Homo sapiens: one gene and its partners. The protein of the gene in region 1 interacts with the protein of each later gene in a biochemical or structural test. Each region holds a gene or a part of one and is shown on either strand. Other genes may lie near its edges.

The links.
Region 2: the proteins of TMA16 (region 1) and NEDD4L form a complex in vitro, tested with the Homo sapiens proteins (one large-scale study listed by BioGRID).
Region 3: the proteins of TMA16 (region 1) and IKBKG form a complex in vitro, tested with the Homo sapiens proteins (one study listed by BioGRID and IntAct).

The regions. Positions count from the first base shown.
Region 1 is NC_000004.12:163,507,445-163,512,737, reverse strand, and holds part of TMA16 (translation machinery-associated protein 16), read right to left. Parts: intron 1-5,293. UniProt on the Homo sapiens protein: Involved in the biogenesis of the 60S ribosomal subunit in the nucleus.
Region 2 is NC_000018.10:58,047,226-58,050,725, reverse strand, and holds part of NEDD4L (E3 ubiquitin-protein ligase NEDD4-like), read right to left. Parts: exon of another isoform or gene 3,216-3,500; intron 1-3,215. UniProt on the Homo sapiens protein: E3 ubiquitin-protein ligase that mediates the polyubiquitination of lysine and cysteine residues on target proteins and is thereby implicated in the regulation of various signaling pathways including autophagy, innate immunity or DNA repair.
Region 3 is NC_000023.11:154,550,620-154,554,119, forward strand, and holds part of IKBKG (NF-kappa-B essential modulator), read left to right. Parts: intron 1-1,368; coding exon of another isoform or gene 1,369-1,383; coding exon 1,384-1,570; intron 1,571-3,500. UniProt on the Homo sapiens protein: Regulatory subunit of the IKK core complex which phosphorylates inhibitors of NF-kappa-B thus leading to the dissociation of the inhibitor/NF-kappa-B complex and ultimately the degradation of the inhibitor.

The DNA of each region.
Region 1 (5,293 bases):
GCCTAAAGAACTCTAATTAAAAGGTCATTCTTTTACAAATTTGAGAATAATTTTGTTAACAGAAACATTAAATACTATGCTTCTCTTTTGAATCACTAGAATTTTATCAGAAACTTCCTTTAAGCACCTCAATGTCTAAAGGAAGCCTATAGAACAAACCAGTTTTGAAAACACAACTGAAAGCTTTTCTGAATTGTGAACATTCAGATGGGTTCTGTAATATGCAGAATACTTGAGCACAAGAGTAATGCAAACCTTCTGGAAGACTGAGTACTGCCACCAAGATCAAAATGCACTACTGTCATCTTTTAAATTTCAATAAGAACAAAACAGAATGGTTACTTTCAATGAATTTGAAAAGAATTATAACAAACAAAAATTTCATCTATGCTCAGAAAGTGTATAGGTAACACATGCCTCCTATTACTGATATTCTAAACACTTACTCATTCAGGAGACCTCTGGATACCAAGTCTTTGCCAGACTTTAGTTTCTGATAGCCCCAAAGGATACAGCCATGAACAAAAAAAATTCACTGTCCCTGTCCTGAAAAACCTTAAAATCTAAGGGCAATAAAAACATGGAGAAGCATACAGAGCTATAAAAGCATATTTAAAAAGCACCTACCATATGTTTTAGGATTTGGGAAGGTTTTCCAGAGAAGTAAATTTTAAGCTGAGACCTGAACATACAGAGAAGTTATTCAGGATTAAAAAAAAAAAAAGATAGGGACTACGGGAATGGTAAAAGAAAAATCTTAGCCATAGGAGAAGGCTTTGTATAAAGCAGGAAGTATACATGGCTTTTATCCACAAAGAAGTAAGCAAACCAGATTTATCCTCCCATTTTACACAACTAGAAAACTGGAGAAATAAAATGAAATCTTTTGTTATTATTATCATTATTATCATTAGAGACAGGGCCTCACTGTGTAGCTCGAGCAGGACTGCAGTAGTGCTGTCATTGCTCACCACAGCCTCAAACTCCTGGGCTCAAGCAACCATCCTGCCTCAGCCTCCCATGTAGTTAGGACTACTGTTATATACCACCATGCCTGGCTACTTTTTTTTTTTTTTTTACTTTTATTTTTGTAGAGACAGAGTCTCACTGTGTCACCCAGGCTCGTCTCAAACTCCTGGCCTCAAGCGGTCCTCTCACCTTGGCCTCCCAAAGCACTGGGATTACAAGGATGAGCCACCATACTAGGCCAAAACCTTCTTTATATAAAATTTTTAAGTTACAGATTAGGAGAAAATATTCATAACACAAATAACAAAGGACTTGTATCTAGAATATATAAACAGTCCTTACTACTTAACAACAGATTAACCCAGTACCAAAAAGGCAAAAGATTCGGACAGATTCTCCATCAAGAAAACACAAATGACCAAAAAGAACCTAAAAAGATGCTCAACATCATTAGTCATCAAGAAATGAAAATTAAAACCACACTGAAATACCACTATACACCTACTAGATTGGCTAAAATTAAAGAGAAAAAAAAAACCCTGACAACATAACATGTCAAAGAGGATATACAGCAAATAGAACTCTCATACTCTGGTGGTGAAAATGTAAAATGGTACTATCACTTTGAGAAAGGTAATTTCATATATACTTAAATATACACCAAATGATCCAGCAATTCTTATATACCCAAATTCTCATATACTTAAGCAAACATCTTAAGTGTGTTAACCTAACGTCTTATAAACTGAATTTCTTATAAACTCAAACATCTACCCAACAATTATAGTTCTAGGAAGTAAAAGAAAAATGAAAACGTATGTCCACACAAACACCTGTACATGAATGTTTTACAGGAATGAACTTTATTCCTAACAGCAGAGGTTGACAATATTTTCTTCAATGGTCAAGTAGTCACATTTTAGGCTTTGGGGGCTGTGTACCTGTAACAATTACTCAGCTCTGCCACTGCAGCATGAATGCAGCTATAGAAAACACAAAAGGAACCAGCATTGATGTTTTCCAACAAAACTTTTCGTAATAACAGGTGGCTAATGCCTTAGCTTGCCGACCTCTGATAACAGCCAAAAATGAAAATATAACCAAACGAACATAGACAGTGAATGGATAAGCAAGGTGCATATCCAGTGAATGGATATAAATAAATTGCCTGAGGATGGAATAATACTCCCAATAAAAGGAAAGAACAACTAATACATAAAATGACATGGATAAGTCTCTCAAACATTATGCTACGTGAAAGACGCTGGCACAAAAAACCACATACAGCATGATCCCATTTATATTAAACATTAGAAAGATAAATCTCACCTATCAAAATAAAGAGCAAATTAGTGGCTGCCCGAGGCTAGGGGTAGAGGGTGAGGACTGACTGGGAAGATACACAAGGGAATTTTCTAGGAAGATGAAATTGTATACTACATACTGATCAGGGTGGCTACACCAATGTATACAATTGTCAAAACCCAAAAACTACACTTAAAATGTGTTCGCTTTATTATATATTAATTATACCCCAAAGTTGATCTTAAAAAACAAAGAACACTTCATAAAAAGTTGGAGAATGGCTCTGAGGGGAATTTCTTCCTTTTAAATAAGGCTGGAGGGAAGAATCTAGTTAGAAGTCAAGTTGCAATAATTCTGAATGGACTCAGTGGGAACCTGAACTTACAGTGGTATCAGCTGGAATGAAGAAAAGTAGAGAGATGTGAGAATTATTTAAAACAGTACTTGCATGTAAATATGAAAAAATTCTTAAAACAATATGTAAACATGAGTTTTAAAGAGAATCAATAAGATTAATTCTCAAAGGTAGTTGTTTCTGAGATTCTTACCCATCATGCTTAGTTTCCTTTGTTAATCTTCCATTAGGAGTCATTTTCATTTGCTATCTAGAATTATTTGCCAAAATGTTGCTATACTGTGAAATCATAAAACAAAAATCACATCATATCAAAGAGCCACTTGCTGCTTGTAAATTGTTCATTGTCGGGAATGTGCTAGTCTTCAAACCATCCTAGTTCCTGTCATACAGTCCTAAATCAGAGCTTTTCAAATGTTGAAGATAAAGAATATGCTTGAACTTTTACTCTAGCATTGTTATCCACTCCTACAGTATCTTTTCTGAGGTCTGCCAACAGCCATGTGAGGAAGCTTGGAAGCAGAAATTCTCCCTAGCAAGCTCTGAGATGAATGCAGTCCCAGACAACAGCTTAGCTGCAGGCTTGTGAAAGATGCTGGGTCAGAAACACCCAGTTAAGTGGCAACGGGATTCCTACCTGATCCAGAAACTGTGTTTGTTTTAAGCTGCTAAATTGTAGCAGAATTTCTTATGCAGCAACAGTTACTAAAACAACATCTGGTAACTGCTATTCATTTCTAAGAAGCCACAGGTACCCAAGTTCAAGTTGTCCTGTTGGTACCTTCTTCAATCACCTTGCTTAAAGTTGTCCCAACCATCTGGGTATCTTGTCACCAATCATCTTTTGAAATGGGGCAGGGAATCAGCAGCGTTTCAACGTGCCTTTTGTGACCACATTCCCATTTAAAGTTAAGTATGACTCGTGGTTACTGATGCTGCTACTCAAAAAACTGACATCTATAGTGGCCTAAGCCTATGATTTCATAACATAAAATAATGTTAAGTACTATTAAAATTGTATATTTGGTTCTAGAGCCATGACTACTAAGAGAGTGACTTTTTGAAAATAAATTTTAAAAAGGGAAAAAATCCAATCTATTTAGAACATTGTCTAAGCAGAAAAATTAAGTGCTTTCTACTCTGCATTACTAAAATAAAAGTCTTGGCCAATAAACAGAATTTTCTTAGGACAATATATACATATCAGATTAGCATGTTGTTCTGTTTTATTCTTCCATAATTTTTCTATAACGCTAATTCTGTAAATCAATACACAACATGCTGAATATACCTGACAACATACAAACATTGTAGGCTCACGGTCACAATGACAGTGAACCAAGTACTTAATCATATTCTAAAGCAGTTACTTGCTAAAATATTGCATATCATACCACTGGTACTATATGTAAGGTAAGCAGTTCATAGACACAGAATTAAACAATCTTTAATAAAATGGTAAGCACGTTGCTTCCCCTTCCTCCATTTTCTTTTGATCCTTTCACTTTACATTAAGGACAAAAGTGTGGGTTTGTTTTACCAGTCTTCCAACCTTCACCAGATCTTTTCACCAAACATATACAAAAGTTATGTCTCAGCCTCAGACCATTTACAGCAGGTAATAGTATCTATTTGATTTTAAGAGAGAAAAAATATCTCCTTTTTAAAAAATGGTACTTAAGGGAAAATAAATAATAGTATAGGTCAGTGATTCTCATAGTGTGGTCCCTAAACCAGCAGCAACAGCACCAGCATTACCTGGAGACTTGTTGGAAGTGGAAACCCTTAAGCCAGAAACCCAAACCTTCAGAATAGAAAATTCTAGGGGTTGGAACAAACAGTTTTAATAAGTTCTACAGATGTATTTCATGTACTTAAGTTTGCAAAATACTGATATATATGAGAGCAGAAACTGCAAAATCACAGTACTAATAAATCATATTAAAAAGATACAGCAAAAATCATAAAAGTGATGCATAAATAGCTGAAGTTTGAAAACTACTGTGCTAAAGCAAAACTGCTATCATCACAGTAAATCTTTATGTTGAAAAAAATAAAAAACTACCCTGCAGAAAATAAAGAAAATTTGACTCTGCTATCACAACACTTATTTCCTTCTAGCCAAATCACTGTGAAACAGGTAACCTTTACTATATAAAGCTTATCTTAAGCAAAGAATCAACATTTAAAAATATACTGGCTTCCATTATCTGGTATGCAAATGTATCTAACATTCATGAAAATGGCAAGGGCATTCTAAAATAGTCAAAACGATGATGTTTATTTGAACTTCACTTCATTTTAAGGAATCTTTGAAACAGCCTTCTTTCTCCTCCTTCTCAGTCTCACTTGTGGAATGCTCCTTCTTTTCCTAACCTCTAAATGGTAGAGGGCCACTGAACTCAGTAATTGGCTCTCTTCTCTTTCCTGTCAACAGTTACTCCTTAGGTGAACTGATCCTATCCAGTCTCACGGCTTGAAATCCCACATGGATGCTGATCGCTCCCAAATTTGTGTCAATACCCCTAACCTATTCTCTGAACACTAGACTCAACATATCTAACTATCCATTCCATATCTCCTCTTACATGTCTCATGGGCACTTTAACCTACATGCCTTATATACAGACCTCACATTTTTCAACTCTCTGTTCAAATGTAACT
Region 2 (3,500 bases), on another chromosome or scaffold:
ACAATGGCCCGAACTTGTCTCACTGCAACCTCTGCCTCCCAGGTTCAAGCAATTCTCCTGCCTCAGCCTCCCGAGTAACTGGGATTACAGTTGCCTGCCACCAAGCCCAGCTAATTTTTGTATTTTTAGTAAAGACGGAGTTTCACCATGTTGGCCAGGCTGGTCTCAAACTCCTGACCTCAGGTGATCCTCCAGCCTCGGCCTCCCAAAGTGCTGGGATTACGGGCATGAGCCACTGCCCCAGCCTGTTATTATTGTGACAGAGTCTCACTCTGTCACCCAGTCTGGAGTGCAGTGGTGCGATCTCGGCTCACTGCAATCTCTGCCTTCAGGGTTCAAGCTATTCTCCTGCCTCAGCCTCCAGAGTAGCTGGGATTACAGGTGTCCACCACCACACCCAGCTGATTTTTTTTTCATTTATTTATTTATTTATTTTGTAGAGACAGGGTTTCACCATGTTGGCTGGGCTGGTCTCAAACTCCTGACCTCAAGTGATCCACCAGCCTTGGCCTCCAACGTGCTGGGATTACAGATGTGAGCCACTATGTCTGGCCTGAGCAAAATTATTTTTATTCCTTAAATTAAGGAAACTGATGTTCAATAATGAAATAAACAATCATAACATTCTGATTTAATAAAACTAAATATAATGAAAATTCAAATGTCAATGTCTACAAATTCCACAGACACTACATCATTGAAGAAAATAAATTCTATTCATTAGTCTTTTTTTTTTTTTTTTTTTTTTTGGAGACAGGGTCTCACTCTGTCGCCCAGGCTAGAGTGCAGTGGCATGATCTTGGCTCACTGCAACCTCTGCCTCCAGGTTTAAGTGATCCTTCCACCTCAGCCTCCCAAGTAGCTGGGACTACAGGCACGTGCCGCCATGTTTGGCTAACTTTTCTATTTTTTGTAGAGACGGGGTTTCACCACGTTGCCCAGCCTGGCCTCAAACTCCTGAACTCAAGTGATTCTCCTGCCTCGGCCTCCCAAAATGCTAGGATTACAGGAGTGATCACTGCACCCGGTCCCTATAATCAAATTTTAAAACAACATGTTATATTCATGAATTTTAAAAACTGATTTTAAATGTCACCATGAAAACTAGGTCCTTTTAACATTTGTTTCTCAAACATTACCTATATGTCCTGGGTATACAGTCTACCATCCAGCATCTAGGCCCGACACAGGCACTTGGACTTGGCATGACTGGGCAAGCCTTCTCTCTCTTCAGAAAACGGCCTGTCAGCATTCACCTTGAGATCCAAGCAAAATCTAAACCACAATTTTTGAAAGCAATCTTGTCCTCACCGTTTTGCACAGCTGCAAAGATGGCACATAGGGTTTCCCAAGTAATCTCTTGAAAATACACACAGGCCACTTTTTAAAAACTAACAACTATTCTTAATCACTTACAGACGGCCATCCAGTTGGCTATGATCTAGGCCCCCAGTTCCTTCTGTGCTAATGCCTATTTAAGAGCACTTCTCTTTTTCTAGCACTTTCCTCAAACACAGAAAAGCAGAAATCTGACTACTCGTTGACTTAAAAGTACTGAATGATTGGGGATATTGAAACTGATGGCATGGAGTTTTCCCAGGTTTCTAGTCACTGTAATTCATCAATTCTAAAATATCCTTTTTCTCATATTTCAACTTCTCTGAAATAAGGATGCTTCATAAGATGGACAGTATGTCATAACTTGACAGCAATTTTTTCTTCGTGGTACATGAAATAATGGCATATCTTAAAAGTGACAGCACACTAAAGTGAAAGAAATATGGCATCCACGCCAAAGGTTAGCCTTAAAGGTTTGTTATGAAGTGGATAATTATATGTAAACAAGTAGAAAGACCCCTAAGACAACAGAAAGTAGTGGTGACTGCAACCATAGCACAACTAGCTGCCACATCTCAAAGGACATAATGCCAGCCACTGACTGTAACTAGGTTAGAATGTGGCCCCAATTAAGCCAGATTTTTACCATTTTCATGAAATTTCCAAGCTTTAAAACACTCTAGAGACCACATTAAGCAGGGTTCCTGGTCAAATCGGGCCCAGCAGCCATCAGTTTGCAACCAGTGGTGTTTATTTCTCTTACATTATCTTAAATAATCTAGATAGTAAGACCTTTCAAGGCATTTGTCAGAAGGGGAGGATATTCAGCATGTTAAAAACTAGGCCTTTCTATTCAAAATAGCTGGCTCCATAACTTAACTTGTTTTGTGTCCTTATGCAGGTCACGTAACCTCTTTGAGCTTTCATTCCTCATCTGTAAATCACAGCCTACCTCACACAGTTCTCATGAGAACTAAATGACATAGTATGTGCACAAGGCTTAGCACTTTGCTCTCATGGCGCATCTTAAAAGTGACAGCATCTTAAACTGAAAAGCATACAGGATCCATGCCAAAAGTTAACCTTAATGGTTGATTAAGAAGTAGATAATTATATGTAAATGAGTAGAAAGACCCCCAAGCCAGCAGGGAGCCGTGGTGACTGGCACCTATAAGCAGATCTGCCACATCTCAAAGGACATAATGCAAGCCACTGATTGTGACTAGGCTAGAATGTGGCCCCAATTAAGCCGGATTTTTACCATTGGTATAGAAGAGGCATTCAAAAGTAGCCAACTATCCGTGTTTGTACAGGATAAGGAGAGAAGGTGCCATTTATCCTATGTCAGCCTGGCCTTCATTTCTATGCCATTTGCTTCATTTTAACTACTAACGAAATTACTTAATGTCATATCTAATGTGATAAGAAGCTGCCATTCAATCCCAGTATTTTGTTCAGTAGAAAAATCTTTTCAATAAATGATACCTTTCTAAAATGGAATAAAAGATTTCAGAAAGTTAGCGGTAACATTCATAAGTAAACTATGCCAAAATGCACTACAGATTGCCAAAAATAAAGAAATAAAACAAGAAATCCACAAGGACTCAAGCCAGATGCAGAAACTAGTCCAAAGTGTTCTGATTCCAAACCAAATCTGATCTTGGGCCATGAATCAGAAGTTTTGTTAAACTGCTAATCCCTCTAACACCAAAAGTCCTTCATCTGATGGTTTTGAATCTGGCTACCTAAAGTGACATGACTTAAATCAGGGTAAATATGAATTATAACTCACCAGAGAAACCTCCGCCCGAAACACACAGAAAAAATTAAACAGCACATACATTCACACAAGCAAAGCCCACATCTCAACCCCTTACCTTCTACAAAGTGGACAGACCTCTGCTGATGACGCAAGGAACAGCACCTAAGCCCTGTGCTTTGGCATCCCCGTTTTCTGGGTTCATGCAATGCTTCATCATCAGCAGTGCAGAGAGCTCAACAGTCTTTATGAGATGGGACATAACTAAGTGCACTCCAAACATACCATGCTTTTCAACAATCTCAAATCAAAATACGAATCTACTTTTAAGAAATGTGGTAGGTATGTGTGTCTACTTTGCTAAAAGATTTATGAGGTCACTCTTCTAAATAGCGGTCAAAAT
Region 3 (3,500 bases), on another chromosome or scaffold:
GCCTGGGCAGGAGTAGCCAGCAAGATAGGGAGGAAACCAGGAGAAGGGGCTGTTCTGAAAGCCAAGGGTGGAGTGCAGTGGCACAATCTCAGCTCACTGCAACGTCCGCCTCCTGGGTTCAAGCGATTCTCTTGCTTCGGCCTCCCGAGTAGCTGGGACTACAGGCGCGTGTCACCACACTCTGCTAATTTTTTGTATTTTTTTTTTTTGAGATGGAGTCTCGCTCTGTTGCCCAGGCTGGAGTGCAGTGGCGCGATCCCGGGTTCACGCCATTCTCCTGCCTCCCGGGTTCACGCCATTCTCCTGCCTCAGCCTCCTGGGTAGCTGGGGCTACAGGCGCCCGCTACCATGCCTGGCTAATTTTTTGTATTTTTAGTAGAGACAGGGTTTCACTGTGTTAGCCAGGATGGTCTCAATCTCCTGACCTCATGATCCACCCGTGTCGGCCTCCCAAAGTGCTGGGATTACAGGCGTGAGCCACCGTGACCGGCAATTTTTTTTTTTTTTTTTAGTAGAGGCAGGGTTTCACCGTGTTAGCCAGGCTGGTCTCGATCTCCTGACCTCATGATTGGCCCGCCTCGGCCTCCCAAAGTGCTGGGATTACAGGTGTGAGCCACTGCGCCCGGCCAGACATTTTAATCTCACAGTTCTGGAGACTAGAAGTCCAAAACCAAAGGGTTAGCAAGCACACACCCTCAAAGGCTCTAAGAGGGCAATCCTCCCTTGCCTCTCCCAAGCTTCTGCCCCATTTATTCCTGGGCTTGTGGCTGCCTCACTCCAGTCTCCGAGGCAGTCCCGACATGGCCTCCTCCCCTTGCGTCTCCCTCTGGCTTCTCTCTTCTGTCTCTCATAAAGACACGTTGTTGGATTTAGGGCCCACCCACGTCACCCAGAATGATCTCATCTTGAGATCCTACATCTGCAAAGACCCTTTTCCCGAATCACATATGTTTCAGGGGTTAGAACATGGGCATATCTTTTCGGGGGGCTACCATTCAGCCCACTACACTGGATGAGGGGCCGGTACCCTCCACTTCTCCTGCTTGGAGGTGTGTAGGGGATCAGGATTCCCAGCATACTGACATCTCCCTCCACAAACAGTCTTGTCCCGACTCTCCCATCTCTGGTGAAATTCTTCTATTTCCAGCCTGGAGCTAGGCCTTTTCAAGTCCCACATGGGTGGTCCAGCACCTCCCTTTGGAATGGGAGTATCTGCTACCCCTTAGACTGAAAACCCACTTTAGCATCCTGATACACTAGGTGAATTATCAGCATTCTGTTTAAAATGTAGCCCCAGAACTCATAGGCTTTTTCTGCTGGGTAAGGATGTGGGTCTCCTGTGACTCCCCTGCTGCCTTTCTCTTTCAGCCCTTGCCCTGTTGGATGAATAGGCACCTCTGGAAGAGCCAACTGTGTGAGATGGTGCAGCCCAGTGGTGGCCCGGCAGCAGATCAGGACGTACTGGGCGAAGAGTCTCCTCTGGGGAAGCCAGCCATGCTGCACCTGCCTTCAGAACAGGGCGCTCCTGAGACCCTCCAGCGCTGCCTGGAGGAGAATCAAGAGCTCCGAGGTGAGGAAAGAGTCAGGGGATCCAGCCCTGCTGAGGGGAAGGCGTCTTCTCCCCACCTGCACCTCTGCGTTTCCTGGGCCTGGGGTGGGGATGTGCTGCCCTCCCTCTTGGTTTCAGGAAGTAGACTCTGAGATGCAGATTAGCGGGGAGGAAGTTTAGCATGCTCTCAGGACCAGTACTGGGAAGGGAAAGGAGGGACAGGGGAAGAAGCCAGGGAGGGCAGAGGGAGAAGCACGCTGCCGGGTAGGCTCCAGGACAGCCTTGCTGGATCTTACAGGGAGCTCTGGAGCTGGAATGAACCTTCCAGGTTGGACCAACATGTCCAGGCCTCTGTGTCCCTGCACTGAGCACTCATGAAGTGCTGTCCATCCTGGGACAGGGCAGAGTCGGCGCTGGGAAGAGGCGTGGTCTGCCCAGAGAGGGGGTGGGGCCTGTCCTGGAAATGGGCGGGGCATGCCCTGGTAGAGGGGCGTGGTCTGTCTTGGGAAGGAAGGTGCGTGGCCCCCACAGGCAACATTCCTCTGGGGCAATCCCGGCGCACACCTCAGCGGAGGTGAAGGCTGACTTCCCACACCCAGTGGCTGGGACTGGGGAGTTCTTTCCTAGACTGCCATCCGGGCGCCCCTCACCCTCTTGCTGCTCAGCTCCAGGTCGTCATGGGTTCAGGGCTCAGCTGCACGCTCCTGCCCGCGCCCTGGGCGTGATGGCACCCCCAGCCCCTGCCATTCTTCCCCCTCACCCCCTCTCCCTGCCACTGCTCTGCATTGCCCTGGGTTAGCCTGGCGGGGCCAGGTGGCACCCGCCATATACTCTTGCCTTTCTGCTGCGGGGGCCTTCTAAGCCTCGGGTCCCAGAGCTGCAGGGAGGGGCGGCATAGACTCCCCACATGGCTCACTGGGTGTGGTGGGGCCTGTAGCCCTTTTTGTTTCATCCTTTGGTTCCTGCTGGGGACTCAGGCCTAAGTGTCCACCCCATCGTGGAGGACAACACCCCTTCCTTGCAGGAGTCATCCCTGAGCTGGCAGCTTCAATTGGCTCTCCGTGTCCTGGCTGGCTGGCAGCTCCTGGGCGAGGTGGCATGTGCCGTGACTACTAGAGATCGCTGTCATGGGCCCACTCCCCCGCCTTCTTTGCTGGACTGTGGTCCGAGATGTTATGTGGGGCTCTGTGCTGACAAGTCACATAGTCTGTAGGCTTCAGAGAGTGGCTCTGGCTGACACCCCGTGGGCAGAGACAAGACCCATGCCTGCGATGTGTCTCCTCTTACTGTCAAGGCAAATCACCTTTCCTTCCATGGAGGAAGGGGTCAGTGCAGTCAGCTTGCTGTCAGGGGGCTGCTTGGTCTCCTCGACGGTGAGGCTGAATTGGAGAGGCCCTGCTGGAGCATGGAGACCCAACATGACCTGCCTGTTCCAGGACAGGGTCCCCCACCTCAGTGCCATCGGCACCTGGGGCTGGAGAATTCTCTTGTACGTTGTAGGGTGTGGAGCAGAGTCCCTGGCCTGTACCTGCTAGATGCCAGTAGCACCTGTCCTGTTGTGACAACTAACAATATCCCCAGATATTTATTGCCAAATGACCCCTGGGGGATACAGTTGTCCCTGGTGAGACCCACTGTATTGGGATCTTCAAAGCACTGGTGCACAGAGAGGTGACAGTTAGACTGGGGGCTTCTGCTCATCCCCAGGAGAGTGCTCTATTGAGGGGGACTTGAGGGTGAGTGTTGCAGGCCAGCTGTGCAGGGACCCTGGCACAGCGTATGGCGCCCTTGCTTCCCTTCCAGGCTGTGTGTTCAGTGCAGCAGCTTCCCTCGGGCTCCAGGGACACAAGGAGGCCTCAAGGCTGTATTGACTCCCCCTGCTCCGCCTGACCTGAGCTTTGTGGGTGGCAGGTGAAACTTGGTAGCTCCATGTGTCAGGCCCTGGGCCAAG